Homo sapiens: one gene and its partner. Changing the gene in region 2 together with the main gene of any one other region gives a genetic interaction. Each region holds a gene or a part of one and is shown on either strand. Other genes may lie near its edges.

Region 1 (3,906 bases), on a different chromosome or scaffold from region 2:
CAGGCCTCACCTCTGATGTTTCAAGAACCATCCCCCAGTATCTATCCTACAACCAAGAGCCCCGGCCTCTAGAAAGCCCCAAACCCCCAGGATGCATTTCCTTTGCGTACTAACCGGCTTTCCCGGTTTTATTCCCGTAACCCTGCAGCTCCAACCCTGCTTGCGCCCCACCATCAGTCAGCGGATCCGGCTAGCCCCGCCCCTCCCGTTCTAGCCCCACCCACCAGCGTTGGCACGAGCCCGCCCCTCGCGCGCCACCTCCGCCTTCTCAGCCGGGCCCACTAGGAGTCCTTTCCGCCCAGCGCGCAGCTCCGGGTTTCCAGCGTCCCAGGTCGTCGCACGCACCTGGAAGATTCCGAAATCCTCCTGCTGTGCATCCTGCCGTAGGCCGTGCTTCCAAGGGATGCGGAAGCGCGTGCGGCTCTTGTTCACCCAGGCCACGCCCTCCAGTTGCCCCAGGTCCAGCTGCGACACCAGCCAGGGCAGGATCCGTGGCTTTGGGGTTCCCATGGTCCGGCCTGCGCGTATAGGGCATTTCCTGGGCGCGACCGGCCTCCCCCGGACCCACCTGGCCTGGAGTTTCCGCACCCAGACCTCCTTCTCACGGGCCACGGCACAGGTCCTTCACCCATATTTTCGGGGGTACAAACAGGAAACCTCCTCTTCCCATCCTCCCATCCTCCCGAGAGGCTCTCTAATCAGCTAGGGTTCCTTCCCATATCCATGGCACATCCTTCCCCAGCGTCTTCAGTGCAGACCCTCCACTCCCTCAATTCCGCCAGTATAGACCTCCTCCCTCCCCCACATCATCGAAAGTAAGTATCCCCACTTTCAGGGTAGCATCCTCTTTCCCTAGTTATTTCAGTGCAGAATCGATTCACGTGTAAGCCTCTACCTCCTGCACTTACCCCAATGTAGACCCCCTTCCACAGTCCCCCTACAGAAGATCTCCCAAAACATTTCCAACACAGAACTTCCATTCAATTCCCCTCCGACTGCCCGCCTCCCTCCTCCAGGACAGAGCACGCCCCAGGTTTCGAGACTGAACTACCCCCATCTACGGAGTCCACCCCTCCCTCTCTAGAACCCCCTCAGTGTAGACGCCTCCTCTTTTCCTCTTTCCTCCCTACTTTTTCTAGTTTTTCTGCAGCCGACCTCCAGCGTCGGCCACTGTAGCTCCTTCCTTGCTCCACTTTCCCCAGAGTACACAGCCTGCCTTTCCACTCTCCGTGCAGACCCATCCTCTTTCCCGCTCCTCGCTCTCGGACGCCACCAACGCTCTCCCGGGCTCTTCCGCGTTACCTACGATGGAAGGTCGGGGCGTGCGGGCAGCTGGAACCCACCCCTGTCTTGGAGCTCCGGGTAGCTCTCAAACTCGAGGCTGCGCACCCCCTTTCCCGTCAGCTGAGCTCTAGAGCGCTGGGGCTTTCTTTTTGATCGACTTCTTGAAATAAAACCAACTTTATCATTCTTTGGGTAACAGACCCAAAAGCCGATGGGACGGCCCGCTGGGCTGTTCCCGCCCCTATGCCCTTTTTTGGGTTTCCGGCCAGAGGCATGCTGGGAGCGTCACATGCAAATTGAGCGTGCACCCAGCGTTCCGCCCTTTCTACGCTGGGCCGGTTATCGACCCGGCCCAGTGCGCAGGCGCGGGAAAGTTGAACTAATAAAGTTTGTACGAGTTCAGTGGAGGAGACCGCAAGTTGAGTGGAGGAGGCGGCGGTGGGGCCCCGGACCAGGTCAGCGGGGTGTTGACGAGGGGTGGGGTGAGGAGGGAAGAGGAGGGGGCCGGGATCCAGTGGTGGGCACCCCAGTCCCGCTTCTCTGATATCCAAGGGTCCAGGGTCCTCTAGATTCCAGCAGGGGTCGGAGATTTGGAACTACACCTCACAGCAGGCTGCGCGGCGAAGAAGCGCGGACCTAGGGGAAGATTTGCCCTGAAACCTCTTGGGATTGGTAGTTCCCGATGCTTTAAGGGTTTCAGGAGTTTGGCATATGCCTCTTATAGAATCCAGGAGTTGGGGCGCTAAGCCTCTTCTTCCTGGGAGACCTAAGGGTCTGGGGCTCCAGTTCCTTTTTCTCTAAGACTCAGAAGTCCAGGACCCCAGCTCCCTCCTCCTTTAGACCCACGAATCTGGGCACCCAGCCCCACCACCTTTCCTTGGATCGAAGAGTCTTTTTCCTGATCGCTTTTTCGTCTGAGGACTCAAGAGTCTAGGCCCCCAGACCCACACTCTCCAAAGGACCCAGGAGTCCAGGCCCTCAGCACCTTCCTTGGGACTCACAAGTCCTGGTCCCCAAGCCTCCACTTCTTGCTAAACCCTTGGAGTCCAGTCCCTAACCCTCTCTCTCACAGGTGCCTCCATGGCAGGCTCTGAAGAGCTGGGGCTCCGGGAAGACACGCTGAGGGTCCTAGCTGCCTTCCTTAGGCGTGGTGAGGCTGCCGGGTCTCCTGTTCCAACTCCACCTAGGTAAGAGGAGTGGCCCTTCTCCCCCAGGGGCCAGCATTTGAGGCTCCCTCCTAACTCTTGCTCCTGGTCTCAGTCTGTCTCCTCTCTTTATATCTGGCTCTATTCTCTGTCTTTGGGGTTTTGGAGAGAGGTCCTCAGCGGGGGAGGGAGGGAGTTGGGGAAAGAGACTGCTTGCAGGGGATCTCTGGTGGGGTCAGTCTCTGAAGTCCTCCTCTCCAGAAGCCCTGCCCAAGAAGAGCCAACAGACTTCCTGAGCCGCCTTCGAAGATGTCTTCCCTGCTCCCTGGGGCGAGGAGCAGCCCCCTCTGAGTCCCCTCGGCCTTGCTCTCTGCCCATCCGCCCCTGCTATGGTTTAGAGCCTGGTAAGAGATTTCCATGATCATCTATGAAGCCGGCAGAACACGGGATAAGGTGCTAGTTTAAGATCACTCAGCTAGGGGGTGGCTGTGTGGAGTCTCTAGCACCAGCCTTCAGGACAGAACCGTCCTGTCCTCTCCCCTCCCCAGTTAGATTTCTGTCAATTCTGTGGGTTGGCTTTCAGAGAGCATTTGGTCAATCTGGTTGTTGTCTCTTTCCTTCCATAACTACTTCCCTGCCCCTAGGACTTTTGTAGCCAGGAATACCCCTGATAGAGGGGCAGAAGGGCTGGTTTTCAATCACATCTCCCTGGCTGTTTTAGTTGCGTGACTCTGGGGAAAATGCTTTCTCTTCCCTGCTCCCCTGTTTTTCCAATAGCAGAGTAGGAATTGGGGAGGAGGTCACTGGACTTGATCAAGGTGACCCACAAGTTTCCTCATAGGTGTGAACCTGGACAGACTAGTAATGGCTGCTGGGAGTGCTAGCTTGAAAAGGGGTTCACAGCTTGGGAGAGGAAGTGCTGTGATCAATTGGTGATGTCTGTAGTGAGTGAGGGAAGGGGATACTAACAGTAATGTCTTGTGTTTGCCTTCCTTGGATGAGATCATCTTCAAGGTCTAGTTGAGCTCTGACAGTCTTTTGGAGACAGATTGTTGCTCTGTCACCCAGGCTGGAGTGCAGGGGTGCAATCTCGACTCACTGCAATCCCCACCTCCTGGGTTCAAGCGATTCTCGTGCCTCAGCCTCCCGAGTGACTGGGATTACAGGTGCACGCCAGCATACTAGCTGATTTTTATACTTTTAGTAGACACGGGGTTTCGCCACGTTGGCCAGGCTGGCCTCAAACTCCTGGCCTCAAGTGACCCTCCCACGTCGGCCTCCCAAAATGTTGAGATTGCAGACGTGAGCCACCGCACCCTGTCAGCTCTGACATTCTTTTTTTTTTTTTTTTTTTTGAGACGGAGTTTCGCCCTTGTTGCCCAGGCTGGAGTGCAATGGCCCGATCTCGGCTCACCACAACCTCTACCTCCCGGGTTCAAGTAATTCTCCTGCCTCAGCCTCCCAAGTAGCTGGGATT
Region 2 (3,906 bases):
TGGGCAACATGGTGAAACCCCATCTCTACAAAAAATACAAAAATTAGCTTGGCATGGTGGTGCAAGACTGTACCAAGCTACTCGGGAGGCTGAGGTGGGAGACTCACCTGAGCCTGGGAGGTGGGGGCTGCAGTGAGCGGTGATCACACCACTCCACTCCAGCCTGGGAAATAGCGCAAGACTCTGCCCCCAAAAACAAACAAAAAAAGGATTATCTCAATTCTCAGGCTTAAAATTTTTCATGGAATCTCAAGCCATCTTCAGTCAAGGCAAGAATTTAGAACTTTTCTACCCTCATCTTCTACCAAAATCTCTTCATATGCCGTGGAAGACTCTAAATCCTGTTTATCCTTATGGTCTAGGTCCCAAGTTCCCAAAAGATATCTAATAACTTACACTATTTTCCACACACAATCCTGGGAAAATGTTCTATTCCTCGGGCAGAGGGAAATCTGGCTGAGATCTCCGATAAGAGTGCTGTTTCCAATGGGAAGCAATGTGAATGGGCAAGGAAGGAAAGCCCCAGATGTGGTCAGAATAAAGCAGACCGGCTGACAACTAAAGCCACGCACAAAGGATATGTCTCCCTGGCCTTCTTCTCCCCCGCTCCTATTTCGTTTAATCCTAACAATTAGGATAACTATCATCACCCTTCTACAGTTGCTGACTCTGGAGCTCAGAGGGGGAAAGATCGTGCTCCACATCACAACACCGGTAAACTCTCAGAACCTGCATCAAACCCAGGTCTTCAAACTCACCCCTCCTGTTTTTCCCAATATGCAGTGCTACCTTTCATGGTCGGCCCATTTCTGGGAACTTCGATACTGTGCTTCTATTGCTCCAGGTTTAAGGAGCATTCTGAGCCTTGACCGGTTCTGAGCTTTGACATCCAACAATCTTATGGCTCTGCTTGGAACATCAGTCATTGACACCTCTAAAAGATTCACTATCCCCTCTGATACTCCATGCCCACCATCCATCCCCAAAACTTCAGAAGAAATGAGGTTAGGAAACCAGGACAGAGCAGAAAGTGCACTGTTCTACAAGGGCTGAAGATGAGTCACAGGTAACCCAGATGAGCAATCAGCCAAGTCTCTTCCACGGCCAATTCATTCAGTCCGCCAGGCACAAGCACTTCTCTCCCGAAGACTCACCTGATAAGAACACCAAAGTTCCAACGTTTCTCGTTGGAAATGAGCACAGAGAGGACACTGCTCACACAAGCAGTGTGGACGCAGCAAGCTCCGCGCCCCGCAACCCTGCACCGAGCACGGTTAACCTCACACTCCCACAGGCGGCAAGAACCGGGACGGCGATGCCCAGTCCAGGCGCTTCCCCTTAGAAGCCCCTTCGCCGCTGGCCCCTATCAGAAAGGAAAGGGGAGGAGGCTGGGGGAGAAACAACTTTATGCTCATTTGCAAGACAGGACCAAAACAAAACCAGCAAACCGAAGCCCTTTAGGAACACCGCCCAGTTCACGGCGCGTGCAAGTTCCGAGGGCAGTTAAGTTTTTGCAACACTTCCCAGCCCTGACCCTGCCCAAGCCGCGGCCGGAGGACTGAGGAAGTGGACGGTCCCGAGCGGGAGGCCCGCGGCAGGAAGTGGAAGCAGAGCCATCTGCGGGATAGGGAAGGAACCGCGGCTACAAGGGAGAGGCGGAGGCCGCCCCCACTTCCTCAGCCCCAGGCAGCCCAGGAAGCCGAGACTCCCCCAGGGAGTCCTCCCGGAGCGGAGCGGGGCCGCTGCCGGGGCGTCGCCCTCCGCCGGCCTCGGGGCGCGACATGTCCTGCCGCCGCCCGGCCACAGCCCGGCACGGAGGGAGCAAGAGGCTGCGGGCGTGCGGCGTACCCCACTCCCCAGCCCGCGCCCCACCCCGCCCGGGGCCCGCGGGCGCCGCGCCCTTACCAGGGACCAGTCCCGCCGCCTCCGCCGTCCGCACCCGGCCCGCAGCTCTTAAACGCGCCCCGCCCCCTCCCGGGGCCGGACCCCAGCCGTCCTCCACCGATTTGTCATTGAGCTGCCGGGCTCGCTTTCCCACCCCCCGAGCGCGCCTCCGGCGTCGCCTAGGCAACCCCTCCTCTCGAGAGCGCGCCCTCGCTTCCGTTCTTGCCCTCTCCTCGGAAGCCACGCCCGTCGGGGGGCTGTCAGCCAATCCGAGGCTGATTTTCCAAGCAGCGGGCGGCCGGGGAGGAGGTTTCACCAATGAGAAGCTGCCCCAGGCACGGGGGGGCGGGCCCAGCGCGCCTGCCCCGTCCCCCTCTGTTTCTCTCTCTGCCCCTCGGACACGCAGCTGGTAACCCTGCGGCAGTGGAGGAGCTGCCCGCCGGTATTGAGGGCGGGTGCGGGTGCACAAGGTGGGGCGCCAGTTGTGGGATTCAGGCCAGGGCTAGGACGAAGTAATGGAAAGCAAAAGCGAAGGACAGACCTGATCATACAGAAACAGAAGAAAATTACGAGGTGGCGAAGAGTGCTGGAGCGCGGCGATGGGGATGCCGCCCGGGGGTCTTGGGGCGGGACTCCACCTGCCGCCACCACTCGCTTCGCTGATGACATCCCATTAGCAGTAATGGAGTTAGTGAGTGCATGGCGGAGACTGGACCCAGGCCGCCTACAAGGGCCAGAATCCCACCCCAGCCATAGCCTCGAGGCAGGAAGTGCAGTGGGCAAGCTCCCTGCCAAAGCCCAGGAACGTGTGATTTTGTATCCAGTACAGCTTCATCTCGGTGGATTTTCCTTCCTAACCACCTCCTCCTCCACAGGTTTTGTGACCGTGCTGACCCCTACGCAGACCTCATGAGAGTCACAAGCCATCGCAACTGACAGTTTAAACGTCTGCCTCTTATCTCTAAGGGAGGGAACTATCTCTTATGCAATGTGATATCCATGGCTGCTAGCACAGTGTAATTAATTCTTTCATTGTTGATCATTGTAAGTTAGGATGCATGTGTATACTATATTGGAGGCTTTGGGCCATGATTAGATTGCTATGTATCTACCAGATCCAGTCCCTCCATCAGCATCTATATCAAAAAGCACAGAAGCTTTACCTTAGTCTTAAGTGACCAACTTAACAAAAAAGTGCAATCAGAAGAATATCCTAGTGTTAGCCTACTAAGTATTCTGTTTTTACCATTCTCATTCACATTTAAAACTTTTATTGAGTGCTAATCGTATGACAGACACTTTGCTAGGTACAGTAAGGAGATGGGGTAGGAGGCTTCTCAAAGAGGAAGCTCCCTAGTATTTATAACCTAGAAGAGGAATCAGACCCAAACCTTTTCTTACGGAGTAACAGTTAAGTGCACAGGTTTGGAGTCTGGAAGCATAGGATTAAAGGAGGGCTCTACCTTGTGACTAGCAGTTACTTAATTAGGAAACTACTTCTGTGGGCTTTAGTTTCACCAGCTGCCCAATAGCAGCACCTCCATGCTATAGGTAAGAAGATGTACATGCAAGTCCACATAGAGCTCTCAGTACAGTGCTAGGAACTTGGTGAGTGCCTCAGGAATGTGAGCTTACATTAGTGATTGCCACCAGAGGCCACGATGTACAGTCAAGTGTGTGATCACCAATCTGGTACAGCCTTATCTCCCAAAGCCCATCTGTATCAAGTGTGACCGCGTGCAGCCTGGTGGAAAGGGCCTGCTGTGGTGGTACCCTTTGTCAAATGCAAGTATAGAGAGGAGAGCAGCTGCAGCAGCCTACCCAAGTGAAAAGGGTATGATAGTTGAGGGAACAGGGTCAGAAATCAGGCCACAGGCCAGGATTCTACTGTTCCCACCTGCCCCCCATCCCCTAGGACCCACAGCAGATGCAGGAGGTTTCCCCACCTTTTCTGGGGTGCTGAAGTGCCATTCCTTTGCATTGGTAACAGGATGCACAGGGCTTTCTGAGAAATGCTGCTTT

Evidence for each region.
Region 1: changes in RALB (region 2) and IRF3 together harm fitness less than expected from each alone (positive genetic interaction), as found in Homo sapiens cells (one study listed by BioGRID).

The regions. Positions count from the first base shown.
Region 1 is NC_000019.10:49,664,329-49,668,234, forward strand, and holds the start of IRF3 (interferon regulatory factor 3), read right to left. Parts: upstream 1,496-3,906; 5' UTR 1,303-1,495; exon of another isoform or gene 814-1,302; intron 519-813; 5' UTR 511-518; coding exon 346-510; exon of another isoform or gene 175-345; coding exon of another isoform or gene 115-174; exon of another isoform or gene 1-114. Other genes in the region: BCL2L12 (bcl-2-like protein 12), read left to right, coding at 2,365-2,471, 2,691-2,833.
Region 2 is NC_000002.12:120,250,980-120,254,885, reverse strand, and holds the start of RALB (ras-related protein Ral-B), read right to left. Parts: upstream 2,035-3,906; 5' UTR 1,906-2,034; intron 1,829-1,905; exon of another isoform or gene 1,155-1,828; intron 1-1,154. UniProt on the Homo sapiens protein: Multifunctional GTPase involved in a variety of cellular processes including gene expression, cell migration, cell proliferation, oncogenic transformation and membrane trafficking.